Regions from separate parts of the Homo sapiens genome. Here region 1 is linked to region 2. Evidence: fine-mapped expression QTL. A gene starts in region 2. The other region holds a variant in brackets. All regions are shown on one strand. Distances are between the middles of the regions. Region 1 overlaps TCTN1 (tectonic family member 1). Region 2 holds the start of GPN3 (GPN-loop GTPase 3).

Evidence for each region. PIP is the estimated chance that this variant, and not a neighbour inherited with it, causes the effect.
Region 1: its variant is fine-mapped to the expression of GPN3 in whole blood (INTERVAL, PIP 0.96).

What each region holds. Positions count from the first base shown.
Region 1 is chr12:110,617,442-110,632,563 of GRCh38, forward strand. TCTN1 (tectonic family member 1) reads left to right here. Exons shown (of 15, transcript NM_001082538.3): 2 at 2,395-2,515; 3 at 8,921-9,051; 4 at 11,326-11,477; 5 at 15,031-15,118. It also overlaps the pseudogene RN7SL387P. Among named protein-coding and RNA genes, the nearest start is that of TCTN1, 11 kb to the left of the region's middle. RefSeq lists an enhancer at 2,092-2,311. The variant C/T (reference allele first, on the strand shown) is at 7,606.
Region 2 is chr12:110,458,629-110,473,750 of GRCh38, forward strand. It overlaps GPN3 (GPN-loop GTPase 3), which reads right to left and starts at 9,629. Exons shown (of 8, transcript NM_016301.4): 1 at 9,528-9,629; 2 at 6,478-6,586; 3 at 1,067-1,234. The coding sequence starts at 9,575. FAM216A (family with sequence similarity 216 member A) reads left to right here and starts at 10,217. Exons shown (of 7, transcript NM_013300.3): 1 at 10,217-10,390; 2 at 14,450-14,490. The coding sequence starts at 10,248. It overlaps LOC124903016 (a long non-coding RNA gene), which reads right to left. Exons shown (of 3, transcript XR_007063459.1): 2 at 12,011-12,188; 3 at 11,661-11,823. It also overlaps the pseudogene RPL31P49. RefSeq lists enhancers at 9,741-9,870, 10,791-10,960 and a silencer at 10,281-10,590.

The sequences.
Region 1 (15,122 bases), 160 kb after region 2:
GCCTCCCAAGTAGCTGGGATTACAGCCGCGCGCCACCATGCCTGGCTAATTTTTTTGGTATTTTTAGTAGAGATGGGGTTTTACCACGTTGGCCAGGCTGGTCTCAAACTCCTAACCTCAGGGGATCCACTCTTCTCAGCCTTCCAGAGTGCTAGGATACAGGCGTGAGCTATGGGATACATTTTTCTTTTCTCTTTTTCTTTCTTTTTTTTTTTTTGAGATGGAATCTTGCCCTGTCACCCAGGCTGGAGTGCAGTGGCACGATATCGGCTCACTGCAAACTCTGCCTCCTGGGTTCAGGCTATTCTTCTGCCTCAGCCTCCTGAGTAGCTGGGACTACGGGTGTGTGCCACCATGCCCGACTAATTTTTGTATTTTCAGTAGAGACGGGGTTTTACCATGTCGGCCAGGCTGGTCTGGACCTCCTGACCTCGTGATCCACCTGCCTCAGCCTCCCAAAGTGCTGGGATTACAGGCTTGAGCCACTGCATCCGGCCGCTGTGGGGTACATTTTTCTAAAGCTCCTTTTTATCGTGAAATAATTCATACGTACAAATAAGAATGTTGGGTGGACACTAGCAGCATTTGCTTCAGATTCCTTTTTTGTTAATTTTGTTTTTTGGCTTGAGATCTTTTTTTTTTTTTTTTTGAGATGGAGTCTCACTCTGTCATCCAGGCTGGAGTGCAGTGGTGTGATCTCAGTTTACTGCAACCTCTGCCTTCTGGGTTGAAACGATTCTCCTGCCTCAGCCTCCCTGAGTAGCTGGGATTACAGGCGCCCACCACCATACCTGGCTAATTTTTGAATTTTTTTTTTGAGATGGAGTCTCGCTCTGTCGCCCAGGCTGGAATGCAGTGACGCGATCTCGGCTCACTGCAAACCCCGCCTCCTGGGTTCACGCCATTCTCCCGCCTCAGCCTCCCCAGTAGCTGGGACTACAGGTGCCCGCCACCACACCCAGCTAGTTTTTATATTGTTAGTAGAGACGGGGTTTCACCGTGTTAGCCAGGATGGTCTCAATCTCCTGACCTTGTGATCCGCCTGCCTTGGCCTCCCAAAGTGCTGGGATTACAGGCATGAACCACCGCGCCCAGCCTAATTTTTGTATTTTTAATAGAGACAGGGTTTAACCATGTTGGCCAGGGCAGTCTCAAACTCCTGACCTCAAGTGATCTGCCCGCCTCCCAAAGTGCAGGAATTACAGATGTGAGCCACCGTGCCTGGTTTGAAATCTTCTTTTGAAAAAGAAAACGTTACAGATAAGATTGAAGGTTGATCTTACTTCTTCCCTTCCAGCAATAATTGCAACTATAAATTCATTCTCTATTTTTTAAAAGGGTTTTCTTGTCCTTATTTGACAGAATAAGATAGAGAATTAAAAATCCAGATAATCATCTTTGTTGCAAAGCGGCAAAGAAAAATCATCCTTATTAATGATTAAAAGTTGACCAGGAGTGGTGGCTCACACCTGTAATCCCAGCACTTTGGGTGGCTAAGGCTGGCAGATCACTTGAGGTCAGGAGTTTGAGACCAGCCTGGCCAACATGGTGAAACCCCGTCCCTAATAAAAATACAAAAAAAAAAAAAAAGTTGGGCGTGGTAGTGCATGCCTTTAATCCCAGCTACTCAGGAGGCTGAGGCAGGAGAATAGCTTGAACCCAGGAGGTGGAGGTTGCAGTGAGCCAAGATTGCACCATTGCACTCCAGCCTGGGCAACAAGAGCCGAAACTCCTTTAAAAAATAAATAAATAAATAAAATAATTAAAAGTTGTGAGGTGGGGGAGATTCCTACCCCGCCCTCATACCTTATTGTCTAAATCACCAAAGACATTCTGAGCACCTGAGCCGGTATGATTCTTGGCCAAGGGTCTGTGAATATGAGTTCAGCTTTAAAGCAGCAGGTTATACGTGAAGAGGGGGCAAGATTGAAAAGTCTCTTTCCTGAAGGTTTAAGTGGGCCCTTCCTCTGAATCGTAATCTCTAGAGGAGGGGCTTAAGGACTTTGGAGTTTTAAACTGGTGGTTCTTATGGTCAGGCAAATGGTTTAGGGGTGCTTGTTCTTAAACTTGTCTAATTATAAGCATCACCTGGAAAGTTTCTGAAAACTGCAAATGCCTGGGTTTCATATTCAGCTTACGAAATCAGCATCTCTGTAGGCAAAGCACTAACAGAACTTTCCAAGCGAGTCAGATCATTAGCCACTTTGGGGAAACCTCTGATTGTGGGATGCTCAAACTGACTCATTTCCACTTCACAAATTTCCCCCAAAGTGCAATAGGAAAAATAAAATGGATCTTTTTTATGAAATTGACTTATGGTACACTGTGGTGGCAGGGGGCAGTCACCACCTGCTGATGGTGATGTTCTGGATCCTACCCCTCTTTTTTCTGCAGTTGCTGTTCTCTGTGTCTGTGACTTATCCCCAGCACAGTGTGACATCAACTGCTGCTGTGATCCCGACTGCAGCTCCGTGGATTTCAGTGTCTTTTCTGCCTGCTCAGTTCCAGTTGTCACGTAAGTTTACGTATGACACATGCAATTTTGAAAAAATTTGACCAGGATAATACAATTTGGAGAAAGGGAAAACTTTCCCAGGCTTAAAAACCCAAACCTGATTTCCAGTGTTTTACGTCGTTCTGAAGCCATACCGTCCAAACAAATATGTAAAAAAGTAGCTATCCCTGGCAGGGCGCAGTGGCTCACGCCTGTAATCCCAGCACTTTGGGAGGCTGAGGTGGGTGGATCACGAGGTCAGGAGATTGGGACCATTCTGGCTAACACGGTGAAACCCCGTCTCTACTAAAAATCCAAAAAAATTAGCCGGGCATGTTGGCGGGCACCTGTGGTCCCAGCTACTCGGGAGGCTGAGGCAGGAGAATGGCGTGAACCCGGGAGGCAGAGCTTGCAGTGAGTGGAGATTGCGCTACTGCACTCTAGCCTGGGTGACAGAGCGAGACTCAGTCTCAAAAAAAAAAAAAGTAGCTATCCCTTATTTGCATTCAGCCAGGTGACTGTGCAGGCAAAAGAGAAGAGAGAATATACATTAAAATAATGTAATGAAACCTCTGTGTTTGAAGATTGAATTACATTTCAATTTGAGTTGTAGACAGTGGTCACATTTTTTGTATCAGTGAATTAGTATAGCCTAGGGTGAAAAGTGCATTTTAATTTCACAGCTTTTGTTGTGGACATAGTATTTGTAACAAAAAATTAGATAAGAAATCTGTACTTTTCTGATATGTAAATCTACCAGGAATTCTCACAGTTCGCATTGTATAGAACAATGAAAAATGACATTTCCAGCTGATTATAAGGTAAATAAATAATCTGTTCTGAATGATCTCTTATAATTGAGGTTTCAAGGCTTCTTTTTTTTTTTTTTTTTTATGAGATGGAGTCTCGCTCTGTTGCCCAGGCTGGAGTGCAGTGGTGTGATAGTGGCTCACTGCAACCACCGCCTCCTGGCTTCAAGCAATTCTCCTGTCTCAGCCTCCTGAGTAGCTGGGACTACAGGTGCACGCCACGATGCCTGGCGTATTTTTAGTAGAGGTGGGGTTTCACCATATTGGTCAGGCTGCTCTCGAACTCCTGACCTCAGGTGATCCGCCCTCCTTGGCCTCCCAAAGTGCCGGGATTTCAGGTGTAAGCCAACGCGCCCAGCTTCAAGGCTTTTTGAAAAACTAGGAGCACTTAGAAGAGGCTCATTAATTCAGGATGGGACCAACTTAGTATTCAGAGATAGCTAATTTAAATTTAGCCTTATAGCAAGTTTTAGCAATTGATACTTGATAGGTGAACCCTTTTAAGAAGTACAATGGGTTTTTCCTGTGAGAAACTATTTTATTGACCAATGGGATTTTGAGCCTATTTCTAGTATTGTAAAAATGCTCAGAGAACAGGGCAATGTAGTCAGATTAATTTTCTGGCTACCTGGCCTGTAGCATGTTTCAGTATTTGTTGAAAGTCATTCTGTTTTCCTCCCTTTAGTAAATACAGGAGCCTGAAAGTGACATTTTTGCTCCAACTTGGGGCTATTTTTTTTTTTTTTGAGACAGAGTCTTGCTCTGTTGCCCAGGCTGGAGTGCAGTGCCTCCATCTCGGCTCACTGCAACCTCTGCCTGCTGGCTTCAAGCAATTTTCCTGCCTCAGCCTCCCAACGAGCTGGGACTACAGGCGTGTGCCACCATGCCCAGCTAATTTTTTGTATTTTTAGTAGAGACAGGGTTTCACCGTGTTAGCCAGGCTGGTCTTGAACTTCTGACCTCGTGATCCGCCCACCTCGGCCTCCCAAAGTGCTGGGATTACAGGCGTGAGCCACTGCGCCTAACCTGGAAGATCTCTTTTCTCCTTAACCATTAGTACCTAGTAGAGCTCCTGCCACATAGTGGGCCCTCGTTAAGAATGAGTTGAATTGGCTGGGCATGGTGTCTCACGCCTGTAATCCCAGCACTTTGGGAGGCTGAGGCATGTAGATCACTTGAGGTCAGGAGTTTGAGACCAGCCTGGCCAAGATAGTGAAACCCCGTGTCTACTAAAAATACAAAAATCAGCTGGGCGTGGTGGTGGGTGCCTGTAATCCCAGCTACTCAGGGGGCTGAGGTGGGAGAATCGCTTGAACCTGGGAGGCAGAGGTTGCAGGAGCCAAGATCGCACCATTGCACTCTAGCCCGGGCAACAAGAGCGAAACTCCATAAAAAAAAATAATAATAATAATAATGAGTTGAATGGATGAATGAATTTCTCCCTTCCACCTCTAACTGATTTCCTAGTGTCCCTTGTTGACTTCCTCTACCATTAGTCTTTTAGGCCGACACCAGGCCAAAAACCTGGAGGCTCCCCTGACCCTTGCCTCTTCCTTTCCTTTTCCTGTCTCAGCAGTCTTTCCTTTCTCCCAACCTTTCTTGAGTACCTCCTGAATGCCAGCACCAGGGACATAAAGATGAGTTAGGCACTCTCCTGCCTTCAAAGAGCTTACCGTCGAGTAAGGGAGACAGAGGAGTGGATGGCAGTTTCTACATCAAGCACGATGAGAAGGCAGAGGAATGGCATCTAACTCAGCCCCACTAAGGAATGCTCCCCAGAAAACAGGAGCTGAGCTGGGTCCTGAAGGACACGTGGAAGATGGTCAGCATGGACTGAGGGGAAGGGCATTCCAGGCAGAGGGAACTGCGTGGACAGAGATGGGGGGATGTGGGATGGCCTGCTTAACTGCAGGTAACTCAGTGTGGCCAGAAGAGGGGTGGGGTGAGAGGAGTGTAGGAAAGAGATCAGGGGTCAGGTCCCCAGGGGCCTTGTGTATATGCTAAGGGGTTTGGACTCTGTCCTGAAGTCCACAGGGCCTGGGTTGTAAGAGGATCAGATTCCCATCTTATGTAATTCTGCAGCATCATATGCAGTGGATCACAAGGCCAAGCCTGGTGGCAGAGAACCAAGTAAAAAGCTATTGCAGATGCGGATTAACGGTTTCCCTCCCCATCCTCCCCAAAAGCTGTGACAGTGGGGCTAGGGAGAAGTATCTAGATCTGATGATGATACTGAAATACTGCACAGGATTGGGGAGGTGGCTGACTGGAGGGGAGTAAGGAATCCCATTCTGTGGAGCCTTCCATCACTCTAGCCCTCGTGGTCGTCCATCCCTGCTCCTGCTTTATGAGCTCACACCTCATCCTGTCAAGCACTCACTAAAAGACCTTCAGAAGTTCTCATTATCTATAGGCTTCTTAGCCTGGATTCAGATTCATTCCCACCTTCTTTCAGAGCCTATCACCTGCTACCAGCCATCTCAAATCCACTCCAGCCCAACCTTGGTACTCAGAGTTTCCCAAAGACCATGAGTCGTTACCCAGCCTTGGCCATTGCCGTTCTTGCACTTGGATTTGCTTCCCATTCCTACTGTCTGTCTGATTTCTACTTATCCTTTAAGGCCCAGTAAAAACGGAATGATAATATCCAGTCTTGGCAAGGGTACAGGGAAATAGGCACTCTTACTACAGTGTTGGTGAGAATGTATATTGTGCCCTTCTAGAGGGCAATCTGGGAGTGTGTCTCAGAAGCTTTAAATAATGTTACCTGCCTTTTGGTTTAGCAGTTCCAGTTCAGGAAACATATCCTAAGGAAACAACTGGAGACAGTCATAAAGATGTATGTATAAGGTTGTCATTATAGCATTACATATAATTGGGGAAAATTAGAAACCTAAACCTAAACCAACGATCATAGCTCGCTGTAACCTTGCTCCTGGGCTCAAGCAGTCCTCCTACCTCAGCCTCCCAAGTAGTTAGAACTATAAGCATCTGCCAGCATGCCGGGCTAATTTTTTCTTTGTTTTCTGTAGAGATCGGGGTCTGTGTTGCCCAGGCTGGTCTTGAACTCCTGGCCTCAAGTGATCCTCCCCAGCCTCCCAAAATGCTGGGATTACAGGCATGAGCCACGGTGCTTGGGCTGTACCATATCCATATCTATATTGGTTAAACAAATTGGGGTATTAATAGGCTGGTATACGATGATGAAGCCACTTATAATATTGTAAGTGCATATTAGGCATTATATATTAAGTGAGAAAAGCCTTAAAACAGTATGTAGAATATGGTCCCATTTTTATTATGACTATCTCTATACTATTATCTGTCTGTCCAGCTATCTGTCTATTTTTTTTTTTTTTTAGAGACAAAATCTCACTTTGTGGCCCAGGCTGGTCTTGAAATCCTGGCTTCAAGTGATCCTCCTGCCATGGCCTCCCAAAGTACTGGCATTGTAGGCGTGAGCCACTGTGCCCAGCCTCTATGTTTTTTTGAGATAGGTCTTGCTCTGTCACCCAGGCTGGAGTGCAGTGACACGATCATAGCTCACTGTAACCTTGCTCCTGGGCTCAAGCAGTCCTCCTACCTCAGCCTCCCAAGTAGTTAGTACTACAGGCATCTGCCAGCATGCCGGACTAATTTTTTCTTTGTTTTTTGTAGAGATAGGGGTCTGTGTTGCCCAGGCTGGTCTTGAACTCCTGGCCTCAAGTGATCCTCCTCAGCCTCCCAAAATGCTGGGATTACAGGCATGAGCCATGGTGCTTGGCCTGTATCTGTATCTATAGCAAATTGATTGGGATTTGTCAAATCTGGGATTGGTTGAAGACTTAACTCATAACTTCTTTTTTTTTTTTTTTTGGGAGAGAGAGTCTCACTCTGTCGCCCAGGCTGGAGTGCAGTGGCACGATCTTGGCTCACTGCAACCTCCCAGGTTCAAGCAATACTCCTGCCTCAGTCTCCCCAGCAGCTGGAACTACAGGCACATGCCACCACGCCTGGCTAATTTATTTTTGTATTTTTAGTAGAGACAGGGTTTCGCCATGTTGGCCAGGCTGGTCTTGAATGCCTGACCTGAGGTGATCCGCTCACCTCGGCCTCCCAAAGTGCTGGGATTACAGGCATGATCCACTGTGCCTGGTCCTGTACCATAACTTGTAAGCACTAAACCTTCCAGACGACTGATCTCAGGTGATCCACCCGCCTCGGCCTCCCAAAGTGCTGGGATTAGAGGCATGAGCCACTGTGCCTGGCCCTGTACCATAACTTCTAAGCATTAAACCTTCCAGATGACTCCACATTTTCTTA[C/T]TCTCACAGTCCTTTGAAGACAGCTTTATTCTAAAGACAAGGAATTTGGATCTATTCTGGGTACTTTTAAACAATCTGAAGGTCTGCAAAATTTTATCTAATTGATGCTATCAGAGTTTGTAAAGTTCACTGACATAAAAATTATACCCTGATCTACGTTCTTGACAAGATTTCCTTAAAGGTTATTCTACTTGTCTCAATTTTGTTTTTTTCTGTTAGAGGAAAAAGTTTTAAATGCCAAGCTTTTTCTTTTTTAAAAAGAGATGAGGATCTCACTATGTTGCCAGACTGGCCTCGAACTCCTAACCTCAAGTGAGCCTTGCATCTTAACCTCCTGAGTAGTTGGTAATACAGGTGCATGCTACTGTGACTGGCCCAAATGCAAAATATTTCAACACAGAATAAACTAAATAAAAATGGATTCAGCCAGCTGTGGTGACTCATGCCCAGCACTTTGGGAGGCTGAGGCAGGTGGATCATCTGAGGTAAGGAGTTTGAGACCAGCCTGGCCAACATGGTGAAACCCTGTCTCTAATAAAAATACAAAAATTAGCCAGGCATGGCAGTGCACACCTGTAGTCCCAGCTACTCGGGAGGCTGAGGCAGGAGAATCACCTGAACCCAAGAGGCAGAGGTTGCAGTGACCCGAGATCGTGCCACTGCACTCCAGCCTGGGAGAGTGAGGCTACATCTCAAAAAAAAGGATTCAATTTTTTTTTTTTTTTTGAGATGGAGTCTCACTCTGTCACCAGGCTTGAGTGCAGTGGCGCGATCTCGGGTCACTGCAACCTCTGCCTCTTGGGTTCAAGCGATGTTCGTGCCTCAGCCTCCCTAGTAGCTGGGATTACAGGCACCCACCACCACGCCCAGCTAATTTTTGTATTTTTAGTGGAGATGGGGTTTTACCATCTTGGCCAGGCTGGTCCCCATCTCCTGACCTTGTGATCCGCCTACCTCGGCCTCCCAAAGTGCTGGGATTACAGGTGTGAGCCACCGTGCCCAGCCGGATTCAATTCTAATATGCTTTCTTTTTTCTTTCTTTCTTTCTTTTTTTTTTTGTGAGACAGAGTCTTGCTCTGTTGCCCAGGCTAGAGTGCAGTGGCGCGATCTTGGCTCACTGCCAGCTCTGCCTCCTGGGTTCATGCCATTCTCCCGCCTCAGCCTCCCAAGTAGCTGGGACGTCATGCTTTCATAAATATCCTCCACGTAACTGTTAACATAGTACAGTACAAGCATCTGACAGTTTTAAAATAATTTTGCTAAGATTGTGTGCTTATGTCTTGTAACTTTGTATTATTATTTTTTTAATTTTCAGGGGCGACAGCCAGTTTTGTAGTCAAAAAGCAGTCATCTATTCATTGAATTTTACAGCAAACCCACCTCAAAGAGTATTTGAACTTGTTGACCAGATTAATCCATCTATTTTCTGCATTCATATTACAAACTGTAAGTATTTGACATTGATATATTTTGTGAAGCTCTGGAAAATTTTTCTCAAAGTTATGGAAAAATGTGTCAGATTTATTTTATAATTATGATTATGGTTTTTTTGAGACAGAGTCTTGCTCTGTCACCCAGGCTGGCGTGCAGTGGCGCAATCTCGGCTCACTGAAACCTCCACCTCCCAGATTCAAGTGATTCTCCTGCCTCAGCCTACTGAGTAGCTGGGATTACAGGTGCCTGCCACCATGCCTGGATAATTTTTGTGTGTGCGTGGTTTTTTTTTTTTTTTTTTTTTTTTGAGACGGAGTTTCGCTCTTGTTGCCCAGGCTGGAGTGCAACGGCTCAATCTCGGCTCATCACAAATCCTCTGCCTCTTGGGTTCAAGTGAGTCTCCTGCCTCAGCCTCCCAAGTAGCTGGGATTACAGGCATGGGCCACCATGCCTGGCCAGTTTTGTATTTTTAGTAGAGACGGGGTTTCTCCATGTTGGTCAGGCTGGTCTTGAACTCCCGACCTCAGGTGATCCACCTGCCTTGGCCTCCCAACGTGCTGGGATTACAGGTGTGAGCCACTGTGCCCAGCCCTATTATTACTATTTTTTCTTTCTTTCTTTTTTTTTTTTTTTTTGAGGCAGAGTCTCACTCTGTTGCCCAGGTTGGAAAGCAGTGGCACGTTCTCAGCTCACTGCAACCTCTGCCTCCCGGGTTCAAGTGATTCTCCTGCCTCAGCCTCCCGAGTAGCTGAGATTACAGGTACCTGCCACCACACCCAGCTAATTTTTTATTTTTAGTAGAGACAGGGTTTCACCATGTTGGCGAGGCTGGTCTCAAACTCCTGACCTTAAATGATCCTCCTGCCTCGGCCTCTCAAAATGCCGAGATTACAGGTGTGAGCTGCCTTGTCCAGCCCTCAGTTAGATTTAAAGCAATTATTCTGTTTTGCTATATGTATAGTGTATATCTTTAGAGACCATTTCACAGGTAATAGGAAGTAACTTTATAGACCTGTGGGCATGCACATTTTCTTTAAAAGTAATTATGATTGTGTAGTTGTCTTTCGAAACCGTATACTTATCTTAAAAGTGTTTATAATATGCAGACATACATAGGAATCTAGGTTTCTATATATACATGTGTTTTTTTAACTTTATTTCCTCCTGGTTTAATGGTTGAAAATCAGGCTCAGCTTTGAACATTACCTGTGGTTTCTATTTCCTTTTTTCTTTTATTTTTACTAAGAATATTTGCATGAAAACAGGATCTTTATTTTTATCTGAGCATTTAGCTCAAATATATGTCTAGATCCAAAGTACATGTACATGTAAAATGTTATCAGGATATCAAAGATCAGAGACACGTTTATGCTTTTATTTGTCAAATTCTGTCATATTTTCAGAATATCTTTATAGATTTTGGTTTTGTTCTCTTGTGATTGAAAACAGGCAGATGCTCTGTGTGATTTGTAATCTGAAGTGATAACTGGCCAGTGACTGTCAGGTTCTCTGTCGTAACACCAGCCCAGTGAACATGCCAGCCTGCTTCCTTCTCTCTCTTCTGTACACAGCACATTTTACTCCAGGACTTTCACGGTGGCTGTGTGAGAGTAGAAGTCGGATTCTTTCATTCCCATAGCCATCCGGAGAGAGCTTCTCCTTACAGGTTGATACAGCAAACTCATCAGTCCAGGGGCTAGAGAAATAGACGGATTATTATTGGCTTCTGTTGTGCTGTTTACTTGTAAGTGCTACAAACTATTACTTCCCCATTATTAGAAGAAGCAGGCTGAGTCTGGAGGTCCTGTTTGTTTAATAAGCTTTAAAAAATCCTGGGAGAAGTGAATATGGAAAAATACACTTTTTTTTTTTTTTTTTGAGATGAAGTCTCACTGTGTCACCCAGGCTGGAGTGCAGTGGCGCTATCTCAGCTCACTGCAACCTCTGCCTGCTGGGTTTCAGCGATTCTCCTGCCTCAGCCTCCCGAGTAGCTGGGATTACAGGTGCACACCACCATGACTGGCTAATTTTTGTATTTTTAGTAGAGACAGGATTTCACCGTGTTGGCCAGGCTGGTCTCAAACTCCTGACCTCAGGCAGTCCGCCCGCCTTGGCCTCCCAAAGTGTTGAGATTACAGGCGTGAGCCCATGCGCCCAGCCAAGACACTATTTGTTTTTTACATCAGCCTTGATGCTATTAAAAACTTTCCAAAACCTTTATATAGGTCATACATATTATACATATATTTTATACCGATTTAAAATACTGTTTTTTTTAAAAAACAGATAAACCTGCATTATCCTTTATTAATCCAGAAGTACCTGATGAAAACAATTTTGATACATTGATGAAAACATCTGATGGTTTTACATTGAATGCTGAATCATATGTTTCCTTCACAACCAAACTGGATATTCCTACTGCTGCTAAATATGAGGTGAGCCTGAACTTGATTGATTCTTTTCATCCCATCACAAATATCTTTCCTTGTAAGTTAATTTTCAAGGTTACCAGGAAAACTGGGTTCCTTGAGACAGAGTTGATATTATAGACTAAAAAACTTAATGTTCATGCCTACAAATCAAAGATCATGAAAATTAAAACTGAATATTTGAAGATGGATTAAAGACTTAAATGTAAGACCTAAAACCATACAAACCCTAGAAGAAAACCCAGGCAATACCATTCAGGACATAGACATGGGCAAAGACATCATGAGTAAAACAACCAAAAGCAATGGCAACAAAAGCCAAAATTGACAAATGGGATCTAATTAAACTAAAGAGCTTCTGCACAGCAAAAGAAACTATCATCAGAGTGAACGTGTGACCTACAGAATGGGAAAAAATTTTTGCAATCTATCCATATGACAAAGGGCTAATATCCAGAATCTACAAGGAACTTAAATAAATTTACAAGAAAAAAACAACCCCATCAAAAAGTGGGTGAAGGATATGAATAGACACTTTTCAAAAGAAGACATTTAAGTGGCCAACGAACCTATGAAAAAAGGCTCATCATCACTGGTCATTAGAGAAATGCAAATCAAAACTGCAATCAGATACCATCTCACGCCAGTTAGAATGACGATTATTAAGAAGTCAGGAAACAACAGGTGCTGGAGAGGATATGGAGAAATAGGAACGCTTTTACACTGTTGGGTGGGAGTGTAAATTATTTCAACCATTGTGGAAGACAGTGCGGCGATTCCTCAAGGATCTAGAACCTAAAATACCATTTGACCCAGCAATTCCATTACTGAGTATATACCCAAAGGATTATAAATCATTCTATAAAGACACACGCACACGTATGTTTATTGCAGCACTATTCACAATAGCAAAGACTTGGAACCAACCCAAATGTCCATCAGTGATAGACTGGGTGAAGAAAATGTGGCACATACACAACATGGAATGCTAAGCAGCCATAAAAAAGGATGAGTTCATGTCCTTTGTAGGAAACCATCATTCTCAGCAAACTAACATGGAACAGAAAACCAAACATCGCATGTTCTCACTCATAAGTGGGAGTTGAACAATGAGAACACATGGACACAGGGAGGGGAACATCACACACAGGGGCCTGTCAGAGGGTGGTGGGCTAGGGGAGGGGATAGCATTAGGAGAAACACCTAATGTAGATGATGGGTTGATGAGTGCAGTAAACCACCATGGCACGTGTATACCTACGTAACAAACCTGCATGTTCTGCACCCGTTATCCCAGAACTTAAAATATAATAATAAAAATAAAACTGAATATTTGAATTCTGAATAGAGGATTTAAGGTTGTTTATTCTGTGATAAACTTGTATTTTGTCTCTTCAGAGTTCTTTGTTCTCCTCAACCTTAAAAGATGCAGCAAAATGCTTGAGGCATGTTGCTGAGATCATGGAGTAGATTGGTTGGTTGTCTGGTCATCTTCTCAAAATTGTATTTAGTTTTACAGATTTTGGAAGATGTGTGCTGTTTTATGTCTATTCAGTAGTACACCTTTAAATGGGACACATATTAACTGAATGAACCTTAACTCTTTTGGAAGCATCTTTTTAAAAGCAAAGTATAAAAGCAACATGTACTAGTTCTAAAAGTTCAACATATAGAGGCATATAAGTTGAAAGATCCCTGTATCCATTAATATTCATACTGCAAATCACTTTGAAGAGATTGGTGTGTATTCTTCCTGATTTTTAAATATGTCTATTATAATGTATATATGGTGTTGTATAGAAGTGGGATTTATAGGTATCCACATTGTTCTAGAAAATTCCTTTTTCAGTGATAAATCATGTGCATCTTCCCATGTCAATATAAAATTTACCATTGAGCATTTTCCATGTGCCAGGCACTGTGAAGAGCTTTTCAGGCATTACTTCATGCACCCCCCTGGGAGGGATGCACCATTGTCTCCATTTACCTGATGAGAAAAACTTAGGCACAGGAAAGCAACTTGTCAGAACTAGTGATAGAGCTGCGTTGTTGTTGTTGTTGTTGTTGTTTTTGAGATGGAGTCTTGCTGTGTCGCCCAGGCTGGAGTGCAGTGGTGTGATCTTGGCTCACTGCAACCTCCGCCTCTCAGGTTCAAGCAATTCTCCCACCTCAGCCTCCCAAGTAGCTGGGATTGCAGGCACCTGCCATCATGATCAGCTAATTTTTGTATTTTTGTAGAGATGGGGTTTCACCATGTTGGCCAGGCTGGTCTTCAGCTAATTTTTGTATTTTTGTAGAGACGGGGTTTCACCATGTTGGCCAGGCTGGTCTTGAACTCCTGACCTCAGGTAATCCGCTCGCCTCGGCCTCCCAAAGTGCTGGGATTACGATGTGAGCCACTGCACCCAGCCCTAGAGCTGTAGTTTACAAAATATTCTTGGCTGGGCATGGTGGCTCACGCCTATAATCCCAGCACTTTGGGAGGCCGAGGCGGGCAAATCACTTGAGGTCAGGAGTTCCACACCAGCCTGGACAATATAGTGAAACCCCATGTCTACTAAAAATACAAAAATTAGCTGGGCGTGGTGGTGCGTGCCTGTAGTTCCAGCTACTTGGAAGGCTGAGGCATGAGGATCGCTTGAACCCAGGAAGCGGAGGTTGCAGTGAGCTGAGATCATGCCACTGCACTCCAGCCTGGGCAATAGAGCAAGACTCCATCTCAAAAACAAACAAACAAACAAAGCCAAAATATTATTTTCTGTGTATGTATCTGAGCTGTTCCACTCTTAACAGACATGTTTCCAGTTTTTGCTGTTATCCACAATGAACATTCTCATATATACATACATTTTTGTACACTTCACTGATTAAATCCTTAGGATACATTCCTATAAATGAGTTAGTTTGGTAAAAATGAATGGAAAATTTAAATATTGATACCAGATTGCCCTCCAGAAAAATTGCAGTGCTTTACACTCCCAGCTCCAGTGAGTGGAAGGAGTTGTTTCCCATACTCCTGCTGGCACTAAAGCATTTGGATAAACTTTCAAGTTCGAGAAAATTGGCTATAAGCCTAATAGCTATTAATCTGGGTTTTGAAGATTGGAAAATAATTTTGTGGGGTTTGGTTTTGGGAAAGAAGGCATTCTTTCATAAAACTGATTTATAAAAAATTGATTTTTATGATTTTAATGTATACTGTATATGTTATTTAAATAATTAATGCTAGCGAAAAATAATTCTCTCAACCCTGTGTCCAGCCACCTAGTTCCTGTCTGCAGAGGCAGATCGTTATGTCATTGTCTCATGTACCCTTCCAGAGGAATTCCATGACTAAGAAGCCTGCAAATACAGTAACATGCACATACAGAAACACATCCTTTTAAAAATGGCGACACAACTAGATGTGAGCTTCTTGAGGGCAAGGACCACATCTGTTTTTTGCTCATCAGTGTGTCTCTGATGCCTGCAGTGCTGCTTGGCACATTGTGGGTGCCCAGTAAGTGTTGAATGAATACTTTAATTACACCATAACGACTGTTGGTTGTTGTGTTTGCAGTATGGGGTTCCTCTGCAGACTTCAGATTCGTTTCTGAGATTTCCTTCGTCCCTGACATCATCTCTGTGCACTGATAATAACCCTGCAGGTAA
Region 2 (15,122 bases):
AAATAGCCGGGTGTGGTGGTGGGTGCCTGTAATCCCAGCTACTTGGGAGACTGAGACAGGAGAATCACTTGAACCCAGGAAGTGGAGACTGGAGTGAGCCGAGATGGCGCCATCATACTCCAGCCTGGGTGACAGGAATGAAACTCAGTCTCAAAAAAAAGAAAAAAAAAAAAGAAAATTCACGATTTGGCTTCAGAAGCCATGATGTGCTATTATCTGTCTCCTACCAGTCACACCTCATGACAATTGCCTCTTTGTTTATTATGCTCCAGCCACACTGGCCTTTTCAGTGCCTTAAAACAGCTTTGTTCCTTCCTCCTGGGAGGTGTTCAGCAGGCTGTGCCCTCTGCCTTCCTCACCCTCAGCCTCCAGCCCAGCTGAAAGGCCGCCTCAGATGCCTCTCTAACCGCCATTATCTGTGTGATGATCTGTGCTACTCCTGTGGAATACTCAATGACAACTGAATATTAAATAATCATTTGGATGCTTTTTGTTTGTACTGTCTCGAGTTCTGCCAAATGTGAGCTCCATGAGGCCAGAGACCATGGCCATCTGTGCTCTATGGTATTCCCAGTGTACAAAGCAAGCACTTAATAGATATACTTTTTTTTGTTTTTTTTTTTTGTTTTTGAGACAGAGTCTCATTCTGTTGCCCAGGCTGGAGTGTAGTGGTACAATCTTGGCTCACTGCAAGCTCCACCTCCCAGGTTCATGCCATTCTCTTGCCTCAGCCTCCCGAGCAGCTGGGACTACAGGCGCCCGCCACCATGCCTGGCTAATTTTTTGTATTTTTAGTAGAGACAGGGTTTCACCATGTTAGCCAGGATGGTCTCGATCTCCTGACCTCGTGATCCACCTGCCTCGGCCTCCCAAAGTGATGGGATTACAGGCGTGAGCCACTGCGCCCGGCCTCAACAGATATACTTAGTAAGTGACAGCCATTGAATAAGCTTGGTACTTTACTGCAGTATAGTTTAGAGCTACAAATACTCACTCTCCTTTCTCCTACTAAGGATGGAACTATCAAGACTTTAAGGAAGACAATGCATTCAAATTGTTGATTCACCTGGACAATCAAAAAGGATATAGTCGTCCTCTACATGGCCAAGACAGTTCTCCAGCCAGTCAAAATTATTGGCAAAGTACTCCATGCAAAATACCAATCCTCCGTTGGGACCGAATCGCAGAGAATCATCCTCCATTACATCATCCACCTCGATCAGTTCCCGGATGTCTGAAAAGGACAGATAGGGCCCAGAATATATGTGTCCCTTCAAAAATTGTTATCCTTACTAGAAATAGAACATAAAAGTTAATAATTACATAAAAAACCCATATGCAGGAAATTATTTATGTACATGGCTTTTCCCTGTAGCAGTGTCCATCAATAGAGAACTGAGCAAATAAATTATTGTACAGCCCGACAATGGAATACTACACAGCCATAAATGGGGAAAATCTCTTTAAGTATTAATAATAATACAATCTCCTAGGTATATTGTTCAGTGAAAAATGCAAGGTGCAGAACTGTGTAAGAATGCTATCATTGGTGTTAATAAAAGACAAAAATTCACTACATAGACATAATACATATACATCTTGAATTTTATGTGCACAGGCTATGAAAGAACACACCAGAAACTGGTAACACTGGCTGCTGCCAGGGAGGGGAGCTGATTGCTGGGATGCAGAGCTGAGAGGAAGATGTTTTCCTGTATACTTACTCTTTAGTACTTTTACATTATGAACCATGTGAATATGTATTACCTATTCCAAAAAAGTACAAAACCAAAAAAAGAAAACAGATTACCATTTCTTAACACAATGACACTAAGGAAACTATTTCACCTCCTTGAGCCTCACTTTCCTTATCCTGGGTTAGAAGGATGAGAACTATGAGATAATATATCAAAATCACCATCAGGGGCTGGGTGCGGTGACTCCTGCCTGTAATCCCAGCACTTTGGATGAGGCAGGCGGATCACTTGAGGTCAGGAGTTCAAGACTAGCCTGGCCAACATGCTGAAACCTGTCTCTACTAAAAATATAGAAATTAGGCTGGGCATGGTGGCTCATGCCTGTAATCCCAGCACTTTGGGAGGCCGAGGTGGGGGGATCATGAGATCAGGAGTTCGAGACCAGCCTGGCGAACATGGTGAAGCCCCATCTCTACTAAAAATACAAAAATTAGCAGGCATGGCGGCGCACGCCTGTAGTTCTAGCCACTCCGGAGGCTGAGGCAGGAGAATCACTTGAACCCAGCAGGCAGAGGTTGCAGTGAGCCAAGATCACGCCACTGCTCTCAAGCCCAGGCGACAGAGCAAGACTCCATCTCACTTTCCAACTTGGACCCAGCAGAATGGCTCCTGCAAAGAAGGGTGGCGAGAAGAAAAAGGGCCATTCTGCCATCAACGAAGTGGTAACCCGAGAATACACCATCAACATTCACAAGCACATCTATGGAGTGGGCTTCAAGAAGCGTGCCCCTCAGGCACTCAAAGAGATTCAGAAATTTGCCATGAAGGAGATGGGAACTCCAGATGTGCGCATTGATACCAGGCTCAACAAAGCTGTCTGGGCCAAAGGAATAAGGAATGTCCCATACTGAATCCGTGTGCAGCTGTCCAGAAAACGTAATGAGGATGAAGATTCACCAAATAAGCCATATACTTTGGTTACCTATGTACCTGTCACCACTTTCAAAAATCTACAGACAATGTCGATGAGAACTAATCACTGATCGTCAAATACATCAAATAAAGTTATAAAATTGAAAAAAAAAAAGACTCCATCTCAAACAAAAACAAACAAAAATAGAAAAATTAGTCAGGTGTGCTGGCATGTGCCTGTAATCCCAGCTGCTCGGGAGGCTGAGGCAGGAGAATCACTTGAACCCAGGAGGCAGAGGATGTAGTGAGATGACATGGTACCACTGCACTCCAGCCTGGGTGGCAGAGAGAGACTGTCTCAGGAAAAAAAAAATCACCAACAGGAGAGGCTTAAAAAATTCTGGTATGGTTATCTTACTAATTTTGGGGAATCAGTATATAGAATCTTCTACCTTAGGTTTTTACTTATTTTTGTGCTCAAACCTACATTCTCCATTCACAAAGGACTGAGCTTCATTCACAGTCACATTTATACTGACAACACCTTCCTACCCCCTCCCTCAGCAATCAATAACAGATAACTGATCCAAATTGGGACAATCAATCTGGCTTTCTTTCTTTTTAGACAGGGTCTCACTCTGCTGCCCAGGCTGGAGTGCAGTGGCATAATCATGGCTCACTGCAACCTTGACCTCGTAGGCTCAAGTGATCCTCCCACCTCAGCCTCCTGAGTGGCTGGGAATAAAGGCACCCGCCAGCATGCCAGGCTAATCTTTGTATTGACTTGTAGAGATGGGGTTTCACCATGCTTCCCAGGCTGGTCTTGAACTCCTGGGTTCAGGCCATCCATCTGCTTTGGCCTCCCAAAGTACTGGGATTACAGGTGTCAGTCATAGCGCCCATCCTAAGTCCTCTTTTTAACTAAGCTAGCTTAGAGTGGTTTCTGTTTGCTGCAGCCAAATGGTTCCAAAGTAATACAATGCCTTTTTTCTCAAAGAAAAGCATTTCACATCTCCTCCTCTCCCTTCAATCTGCCTCCCCGCAACCTGCTCACTCATTAACAGAAATCAGAAGTTTCCCTTTGCACTTAGTGAGTGCAAAGAGAACGTCCCCAAACCTAAAACGACCTGTCTCCCTCCACAGGAAATTATATCATACACTGAACAAAGCTGTAAGACCTCACCCTTGATTCCTTACTTTGCTATGCCTTCTTGGTTCAATCCCCCACAAAATGCTGTTAATTCAACTTGCAAAATATATTGAATCTGTCTGCTTCCTTACATCTCCACCGTGACCACCCTAGTCCTGGTGTACACCTGGCTAACTACAACAGCGGCAGTGCAGGTTGTACTTCTTTTTTTAATTTTAAAATGGAGTTTTGCTCTTGTTGCCCAGGCTGGAGTGCAATGGTACGATCTCGGCTCACCAGAACCTCTGCCTCCCGGGTTCAAGCGATTCCCCTGTCTCAGCCTCCAGAGTAGCTGGGATTACAGGCATGTGTCACCACACCCAGCTAATTTTGTATTTTTTTTTTTTTGAGACGGAGTCTCGCTCTGTTGCCCAGGCTGGAGTTCAGTGGCGCGATCTCGGCTCACCGCAAGCTCCGCCTCCCGGGTGCACGCCATTCTCCTGCCTCAGCCTCCCCAGTAGCTGGGACCACAGGCGCCCGCCACCATGCCCGGCTAGTTTTTTGTATTTTTAGTAGAGACGGGGTTTCACTGTGTTAGCCAAGATGGTCTTGATCTCCTGACCTTGTGATCCGCCTGCCTCGGCCTCCCAAAGTGCTGGGATTACAGGCGTGAGCCACCATGCCCAGCCATGCAGGTTGTACTTCTACTCTCAACCCACTAGAGTCCATTTTTCATCTGAGCACCTGAGTTATTTTTTAAAACATAAATCAGGCCAAGTGCGGTGGCTCATGCCTATTATCCCAGCACTTTCGGAAGTCAAGCTGGGTGAGTCACTTGAGCCCAGGAGTTTGAGACCAGCCTGGAAATCGAGACCAGCCTGGGCAATGAGACCAGCCTGGGCAACATGGAGAAACCCCGCCTCTACAAAAAATACAAAAATTACCCAGGCATGATAGTGTGTGCCTGTAGTCCCAGCTACTTGGGAGGTAGGAGGATTGCTTGAGTCCAGGAGGTTGAGACTGCAATGAGCTGTGATCAGGCTACTATACTATATAGCCTGGGTGACAGAGTGAGACCTTGTCTCAAAAACAAAACGACAACAACAACAAAAACAAAAAAAGGCCGGATGCAGTGGCTCACGCCTCTAATCCCAACACTTTGGGAGACTGAGGCCAGCAGATTGCTTGAGCTCAGGAGTTTGAGACCAGCCTGGGCAGCATGGTGAAACCCTGTCTCTACAAAAAAAAAAAAAAAAAAAAAAAAAAAAAAAAAAGTATAAAAATTAGCCAGGCATGGTGGCACGCATCTGTAGTCCCAGCTACTTGGGAGGCTGAGATGGGAGGATGGCTTGAGCTCAGGAGGCAGAGGTTGTGTCACTGCACTCCAGCCTGGGCGACAGAGCTGGACCCTGTCTCAAAAAAAAAAAAAAACCCCAAAACGTGTATCAAATGTCAATCCTTTCCTCTTCTTAAAACCCTCTAGTGGCACCCCACTGACAACAGGATAAAATCCCATCTTATCATGTCCTGTTAGCCCCTACCCACTTCTTTCTTTCAGACATTACGCTTTAGCTCACTGACATCTTAGCTTTCCTGGAGAATACCAAATCCTTTCTCACCTCCAGGCTATTTATTTATTTATTTTATTTTTCAGAGATGGATCTTGCAATGTTGCCCAGGCTGGACTTGAACTCCTGGGCTCAAGTGATCCTCCCACATCAGCCTCCCAAGTAGCTGGGACTACAGGCACATGTCCCTGCACCCAGCTTGGCATATTTATTGATCTAAATGTTCCCTCATTTTGGAAGGACTTTCCTCAGCCTGAGGAGCATATTACCATCCTTCAGGTCTAGGCTCAAAGATCCCCTCCTCAGAGTCACCATTCTCCCTGACAATTCTAGCTAAAGCAACCTCAATGAGTACTTCTCATGAGCCTGTCTGCAGTCATCACATTCTGTAACATGTTCATCATGTTGTTTATTGCCTATTTCCTAAAGGGTTGGTGTGGGCAGGGATAATGTCTGTATTATTCTCTGCTATAACTCCGGTGTCTGGCGTAAAACAGGTGTTCAACAGACACTTGAATGAACAAATTGAAAGAATTAAAAAAAACAAACCCAGGCTCCTGACTTATAGTGATCAGCAATATACCACATGATTCACTACAGCAGGACTAAGGACAAAAGGGACAGAATGAAAGGGTGCTGAGGGAAGTGTCCATTTACTTTTTTTTTTTTTTTTTTTGAGATGGAGTCTCGCTCTGTTGCCCAGGCTGGAGTGCAGTGGCGCAATCTCGGCTCACTGCAACCTCTGTCTCCTGGGTTCAAGCGATTCTCCTTTCTCAGCCTCCTGAGTAGCTGGGATTACAGTCACATGCCACCACACCCAGCTGATTTTTTTGTGTTTTTAGTAGAGACAGGGTTTCACCATGTTGGTCAGGCTGGTCTCAAATTCCTGACCTCGTGATCCACCCGCCTCGGCCTCCCAAAGTGCTGGAATTACAGGCATGAGCCTCCGCGCCCGGCCCCATTTACTTTTAAATCTTACATCAAAGACCAAGAAAGGATACTGTCACACATATCACCATGAACAGATGTGACCAAATGACAAGCTCATGCTATTTACCATAACACCAGGGATCCAGACTATAATAAGTATCAGTGCTAAGCAGCTAGTACTCACTGCCTCCCCAGCCCTTACTGTTCCTGAAGGTGGGGGGAGCCTTTGCTCAGGACTTACCAGCCATCACGGAGTAGTTGAAGTGTTCTGCTGCTGGATCCAGGTTTACAACTTGGACAGACCGGTTGAGGGCTTCACAGTGCTGGACCATGGTGGCACAGTAGGTGCTCTGTAATGTCACAAGGCATGAGAGGTTAAAGCAACAGGTAGTGTAGTGCTACCTTCCATACTCTGGAATACTATCCACTAAGGTCAAAACTATGCCTTCATCAACCAAGAGGCTGACTGACAACAAGGGAAAAAGATACCTGACTGGGCTGCAGATTCAAACCTGACTTAGACTCATGGGTACCTCTGGGGAATTTACTTCTCCACTCTGCCCTTCAATTTTCGTGTCTCTAACTGGGATGTCCTCCATAATCACTAAGGCTCCTTACTGTTCTAAATGTGACAAGCGGTATTTAAAGGGAAGAGTTCTGGTTACATAGTGTAACACCTAACACAGTGTCTCTACCAGGACTTGTACAGTGCAAACAAAGCTTTAGGTAGGATGGTCAGGGATGATGTCTCTGAGTAGGGGAGATATGAGTATATGAGAAGGAGTTTGCCAACCTAAGGGGAAGAGCATTCCAAGATGAAAGAACGCCAAGATCAATAAATAGTCTGGAGGTGGCTATCAGTTTGTAACTTTTGGTTTAGATAATTCTTTATCCATTATGTAGTTGTTACCGTACTATGTTAACATCTCGGGCTGGGTGCAGTGGCTCACACCTGTAATCCCAGTACTTTGGGAGGCTGAGGTCGACGGATCACCTGAGGTCAGGAGTTGGAGACCAGCCTGGCCGACATGGTGAAACCTCGTCTCTACTAAAAATACAAAAATTAGCTGGGCGTGGTGGCGTATGCCTGTAATCTCAGATACTCAGGAGGCTGAGGCAGGAGAATCGCTTGAACCCGGGAGGCAGAGGTCGCAGTGAGCTGAGATCACACCACTGCACTCTAGCCTGGATGACAGAACAAGACTCCTGGCTCAAAAAAAAAAAAAAGTCTCTAGGCTACTTGTCTGTGTCATACTCTGTTTAAAGGCAGAGATGTGTCTTATTCAGTTTCCCAAGCACAGGGACTAGCGCAATACCTAGTACATAATAAATACTTGATAATTGTTTCTAATTGACTTATTATGTTTAAAGATAAGCTCCACAAGGGCACGGATTTTGTGTGTGCATGTTTTTTTCCCCATACAACCCCCAGGGCCCAAAACAGTGCCTGGGATAAAGAACGTACTCAAGGAATGTTTCTGATAGTAAGCATCAAAAGCTTATAAAGATACTTGTTTAATACAATCAGCCCAAAAATTAAAATAGACTATAGAAAAAACATCCATCATGCTGTCCTCTCAGTGCCTTTACACATACTGTTGTCTCTGTCTGGAATGCCCTCTCCATACATCACACACTGTATCTTTTTTTTTTTTGCAAAGGGTCTCACTGTCACCCAGGCTGGAGTGCAGTGGCACCATCATAGCTCACTGCAGCTTTGACCCAGGCTCAAGCGATTCTCCAGCCTTAGCCCCCCGAGTAGGTGGGACTATAGGCTCTCGCCACCATGCCCAGCTAATTTTTGTATTTTTGGTAGAGACAGGGCTTCACCATGGTGCCCAGGCTGACCCTGAACTCCTGGGCTCAAGTGATCTGCTGGCCTCAGCCTCCCAAAGTGCGAGGATTACAGGCTTAAGCCACCACACCTGGCCACATCACACTGTATCTTAATTGACAGGTCATCTATTTGTCTTCCCCAAAAGACTACAGACTCTGGGTAAGTTAAAGGCCATAGGTATCTTAGTTACATGTACATGTTTTTACCCAGAATAAGTCAACAGCTTAGAACAATGTGTTTGTTAAAGACTGAGGCCACACAACACCTCCACAGACTCTAGTGTTTCCACACTTCTTCTTTTTTTTTTTTGCGACAGTACCTCTGTCACCCAGGCTGGAGTGCAGTGGCACGATCACCACTCACCACAGCCTCAACCTCCTGGGTTCAGGTAATCCTCCCACTTCAGCTTCCCGAGAAGCTGGGACTAGAGGTACCTGCCACCAGGCCTGGCTAATTTTTGCATTTTTTTGTAGAGACAGAGTTTCGCCGTGTTGCCAAGGCTGGTCCCAAACTCCTGGGCTCAGGCGATCCGTCCACCTCCATCTCCCAAAGTGATAGGATTACAGACGTGAGCCACCACGCCTGGCTATGTTTCCCACACATATGTTATTTGATCCATATCTTCACCATTCTCACTGTATTTGAATGTTCCTAACATTCCCTTAATATTTGTTTACAAGAAAAAATTTTATCCCTACTGTAAACTGAAAACCACTTATATTTGACATAACGTGAAATTAGACATAAAATTATATAAAATCTTTAAATGTTCTATTTTTAGCTAAATACAGGTGCCTATTAAAAGCTCTGAGACTAAGAACTGCTCTCTGAAAAGACCTGGGGATTAAAGAAGTGCTGAAGATACACACTAGCACCGAGCACAACTTCTCCTAAATGCGAAGTTGAGAACTGAAAGAGAAATGAAAAGGGAACAATTTCCCTAACACATTATCTGATGCTCCTTAATGTGGGGTCCATGTACCACCTACCACCTAAAAGCACCTTAAATACCAAAAGTCCATGTCCCAAGTTCTGAGAAACAGTAATTAATGAGACCCCACTTTACCCTCCTGGGAGCGAGACAGGGCCGGATTCTGGAGTTGAGACAAAACTGGATTTATATTTTTTTGCGGGGCAAAGAACTTAATTAACCTTTCTGTATCTCGTTTTCTGTAAAATGAGAAAAATGAGATCTCTCTCACAGGGTTGTTGTAGAAATAAGCGAGGCGTTTCATCTGCTGCCTGGGGCTTAAGTATACAATAAATATTAACAACTACCATTATTTCCCTTTCAAAACAACAACAAAAAAGAACGTGAAGCCAGACAGCAGAAATGAGTTGCGTGGGGTCTCAGGGTTCCCAGTACACACACCCGCCGGCTCACTCCCTCAGGACCCAATCTCCCGCCTTCCACGAACTCCTACTTTTCTCTCCTTGTCCCCGCAGATCCTCACCTTCCCGCTGCCCGCGGGGCCCATGACCAGCTGCGCATACCGAGGCATGTTGGCTCCCGGAGCCGCCCGCCACACTCCCTTAGCCTTCGCGCGACGCCCACTGAGCTCCGGGAAAGTGAAGTGCGAACCAATCGCAATCCACATTCTTTCTACGCCTCCAGTTCTACCACACCTCCTACTACGGGGCAGCCCGCGGGCCAAATCCCGTGAGAAACGCGTCCTGAGAAAAAAGGGGAGGGGCGAGGGAGAGGATTTGCGCGTGCGCAAAAGTAGTTGATGGAAATCGGCCGTTGGGATGCTGTCTAAGCTTGGATACCTGAGTAATAACGGACAACAGATAAAGCTCCGCATCCTTGCGCCACGTGCTTCGGTCCGTGGTTTGCGTGCAGACGTTTGACCTGTATGGTGACCCTCGCGATTTGCAAATGTGCTGAGGATCTGGAATACTGAAGTGGAAGGCACCTCTTGTTTTGGGGAGCATGTATATTTCCCTCCTGTGACGCACTGCTTCCACAGAGAGGTGCAAACGTGCAAACGCTCAGCGACCGCAGCGCTCCTGCCCCTCCCCCACCGTAACTCCGGGGTCGCGGATCTGCCCGCCCCGCTCTCCCGAAGCTGTTCGGGCAGTGTCCGAACGGCTTCGGAGGGGCGAGAAGCCAGCATCCGAGCCGCCTCTCCGGAATACCAGCAGCCTGACGCACGCGTGCTGTCGGGGGAGGGATGCTGGGACAGCTGCTCCCGCACACGGCTCGCGGTCTCGGCGCCGCGGAGATGCCCGGCCAGGGTCCGGGGTCCGACTGGACGGAGCGTAGCTCTTCTGCAGAGCCGCCCGCTGTGGCCGGGACCGAGGGTGGCGGCGGCGGGTGAGGTTGGGGGCCCCGGGGTAAGGGTGGCAGCATGGGGCCCCCGGGTCGTGAGGCCCCCGGGTCGTGAGCCCCGTGGAGGAGGGCTGCGGCCGACCTCTCGTCTCGGGGGCTGGCCCCGGTGCCCTCAAGTGAGAGGCGGGGAGCAGTTTTGTTGTGGACAGAGGGCAGAGGGGAGGACTGCCTCGCGGTTGAGGGAGGGTCTCTGAGGGAAGCTTCGGAGGAGCGTTTGGTGCAGTGGCCACGAGGTGACTGCGACAGTCGCCCGCGTGCATCTCTCTGCCCCGAGGGGGCGCTGCGAGCCCTGCTGGGACGTTTGCTGTCTGGCACAGGACTGTGTGTCCACCGAAAGGCGAGGCGGGAGGGACAGAGGAGGAAGATGTCCCCCGGTTCAACTGGGGGCATCCAGGCCCATAAACCAGTTCCTTCCCTCTAGTGACATGAGCCACCTTCCTGTCAAACGGGGATTTCTTTTTCTTTTTTTTTCTTTTCTTTCTTGTTTTTTGAGAGCGAGACAGTCTCGCTCTGTTGCCTAGGCTGGAATGCGGTGGTGCGATCTCAGCTCACTGCAACCTCAGCCTCCCAGGTTCAAGTGATTCTCCTGCCTCAGCCTCCCGAGTAGCTGGGATTACAGGCGCCTGCCACCACGCCCGGCTAATTTTTGTATTTTTAGTAGAGAGGTGGTTTCACCATGTTGGCTAGGCTTGTGTCGAACCCCTGACCTCAAGTGAGCCGCCCGCCTCGGCCTCCCAAATTGCTGGGATTACGGGGTGAACCATTGCGCCCGACCTCAAACGAGGATTTCTAATCGCCAATGAGACCAATGACTGAATATCCGAGGTGCCTTGATCTTGACATTTTCTTCACACTGAAGTTCCTTTTTTCACAAATCTATTTCGTTTTGAGCAGGTTTTTACACCTATTTCCTAGATAGTGAAGACAGCGAGCTGTTGAAGTCACTGCTGGAGACTCTACCTCCTCTTCCTCTCCCTACTTTATTCCCTAAAAGCAAGAACTGCGATATGTTTGCCGTTCAGTACAACCCGCAGTCAGGGCCCCTGTTGCACCCATGGCCATCCTTTTTGTTTTTTTTTTTTTGAGACAGAGTCTCGTTCTGTTGCCCAGGCTGGAGTGCAGTGGTGCCATCTCAGCTCACTGCAAGCTCCGCCTCCCGGGTTCACGCCATTCTCCTCCCTCAGCCTCTGGAGTAGCTGGGATTACAAGCGCCTGCCACCACGCCCGGCTACTTTTTTGTATTTTTAGTAGAGACGGGGCTTCACCGTGTTAGCCAGGATGGTCTCGATCTCCTGACCTCGTGATCCGCCCGCATGGCCGTCCTTTTTGTCTCTGGTGCTACTGAAGACTTCTTAAAGATGGGATGGAGTCTTGGGTTTCTTTTCTGTTCTTCACAGTCCTTGGCCGACTGCAGGATCCTGGTGTATCAGGAGATACGTGAATTTTTTTTTTTTTTTTTATTGAGACAGAGTCTCCCTCTGTCACCCAGGCTGGAGTGCAGTGTCACGATCTCAGCTAACTGCAACCTCCGCCTCCTGTGTTCAAGCAATTCTCCTGCCTCAGCCTCCCAAGTAGCTGGGACTACAGGTGTGCGCCACCACGTACCTGGCTAATTTTTGTATTTTTAGTAGAGATGGGCATGAGCCTGTAATCCTGGAAGGTTCTATTATGATCCCCACTTTATGGATGACAAAACAGGCACAAAGAGGTTGTTTGTCCTTTCCTTTTATCTCCGCCTGTCGTTCATCTCCATGCTTCCTTTAGTTTATCCAAACTCTTAAAACTACAATTAAAAAAAAAGACAGTATGCCCTTCAGTTTGGTTTAAGGAACCCCATTAAAAAACACAAACCAAGACTAATTTATGAAAAGCTTATATTCCCAGAAATACAAAATAAAATTTTCAAACTAGAATCAGGTTTATTATGCTACATGATACAATGTTGGCACTGGCAGGGGTCTTAAAAATCATCAATTCCGGTCATATTTACTAATCTGAAAGGGGAAGTGATCTGCCAAAAATCCCATTATTAACTAATGGGAACTCCGGAACTCCTTACTTTTTTTCTTCTTTTTTTTTGAGATGGAGTCTCGCTCTGTCACCCAGGCTGGAGTGCAGTGGTGTGATCTTGGCTCACTGCAACCTCCGCCTCCCAGGTTCAAGCGATTCTCCTGCCTCCTGAGTAGCTGGGACTACAGGCACGTGCCACTACGCCTGGCTAAGTTTTTGCATTTTTAGTAGAGAACGGGGTTTCACCATGTTAGCCAGGATGGTCTCGATTTCCTGACCTCGTGATCCACCCGCCTCGGCCTCCCAGAGTGCTGGATTACAGGCGGGAGCTACCGTGCCCAGCACTTTTTTTCTTTAAAGTCAGGTTTATTGAGGCATAATTTACACAAATTAAAGTCTTACTTTTTCATGTATAATATGATGGGTTTTGACAAATGCACATGGCTATGTAAGCACTGCCACACTAAAGATACAGAGCAGCTCTATCACTCCTTCAAAACTCCCTCATACCTTATAAAGTCAACCTTTGAGAAAGGAAGACACAGGAGGGTTGCCAGCAGAGAAGTGATGTGATCTTACTTTACTTAAAAAGGATCACGCTGGTTGCTAGTTGGAGAATAAACTAGAAGGAGCAAGCGTAGAATTAAGAAGTTGGAATACAAGAAAACGATATGGTGGCTTGGAATAAAATAGCAAAGGAAGCGGCGGTGAAAAGTTCATAACAAAAACTTTATAAACTTGGCGCCTGGCCCATGAACTCTTGGTCATTGAATAAATTGCAGGATGAGGATCAGTTGTTTTGTCTTAAGTTTAGAAAAGAAAAAGAATTTGTACGAAATTAGAAACATTACAGACCAACTTATTAGTTCTAGCACACCTTAATTACTATTCAAAGAACAGTCTTTCGGCATGGCGTGGTGGCTCACACCTGTAATCCCAGCACTTTGGGAGGCTGAGGCGGGCGAATCAGTTGAGGTCAGGAGTTTGAGACCGGCCTGGCCAACATGGCGAAACCTTGTCTGTACTAAAGATGGAAAAATTAGCCGGGCGTGGTGGCGGGCACCTGTAATCCCAGCTACCGGGAGGCTGAAGTGGGAGAATTGCTTGGACCTGGAAGGCGGAGGTTGCAGTGAACGGAGATCACGCCATTGCACTCCAGCCTGGGCAACAGAGCAAGACTCTACCTCAAAAAAGAAAAAAGAAAAAAAAAAAAGAACAGTCTTTTCAATACCCAAATCACTTCATTAAAAATAAAGACAGCAAGATAATCACATGGATAGCCCAGGAGCCCCAACTACTTTATTGAGCTCACTGTAGGAATGAGATTAGGAAGCTATAAAATTAAGACCCAGGATAGGCATGGTGGCTCACATCTGTACAAAAATTAGCCAGGCGTTTTGGTGGTCCTGGCTACTTGGTGGCTGAGGATCGTTTGAGCCCAGGATTTTGAGGCTGCGGTGGGCTATGATCACGACACTGCACTCTAGCCTGGGTGAAGGAGGGAGACCCCATCTCTAAAAAAGGAAAGAAAAAAATCTTGGAGCCATTAGGATTTAACCAGAATTATAGGAAAAAATTTGTAAGACATTATTTCTGATGGAAACATGAAAAGTAAAAATAATATGCAACACTATCCTTTTTTAAAATTTGAAATATGTTGGTTGGGTGCAGTGGCTCACACCTTTAATCCCATCACTTTGGGAGGCTGAGGCAGGCAGATCATCTGAGGTCAGGAGTTTGAGACCAGCCTGGCCAATATGGTGAAACCGTCTGTACTAAAAATACAAAAATTAGCTGGGTGTAGCAGCGCTAGTCCCAGCTACCTGGGAGGCTGAGGTGGGAGAATCACTTGAAACTGGGAGGCAGAGGTTCCAATGACCTGAGATCATGCCACTGCACTCCAGCCTGGGTGACAAAGTGAGACCCTGTCTCAAAAAAAAAAAAAAAAAAAAAAAAAAAAATTGAAATATGTTGTTCAGTGCTTGTAACATTGTAATTATTACATATTATTTATATGCTTTATTTTTTCAACAGATCAGCTGGATACTCTTGTTACCAGAATTCCAAAGGTTCTGGTGAGTAGTGCATATAAAGCAGATAATACTTATAAGTAACATGGTTCTGAGAAGCCTATTTGTCTGTAACTACTTACACAATAGAGTTTTTTTCTTTTTTCTTTTTTTTTTGAGATGGAGTCTCACTCTGTTGCCTGGGCTGGAGTGCAGTAGTGCGATCTGGGCTCACTGCAACCTCTGCCTCCTGGGTTCAAGCGATTCTCCTGCCTCAGCCTCCTGAGTAGCTGGGACTACAGATGCGTGCCACCATGCCTGGCTAATTTTTCTATTTTTAGTAGAGACAGGGTTTCGCCATGTTGGCCAGGCTGGTCTGGAGCTCCTGACCTCAGGTGATCCACCTGCCTCCGCCTCCCAAAGTGCTGGGATTACAGGCATGAGCCACCACACCCAGCCCACAATAGAGTTAAAAATAGATTGTATTAGCATCCTTGGTGAACTTAGTCTTTAAGATTTCAAAGAGCAATCAGGGAGGTTTTTCTTGTCTGTTGGTACAGTATATTTTACATCAAGCATTTTTAAAATTAGCAGTGAATCCTAAAAGAACTGTATTTATAGCTGACGTTGGTTGAAAAGCACAGAGCACAGCCTGGGGTTTATACATGGATAGAAGAAAAAAATTCTAAATTGAATAG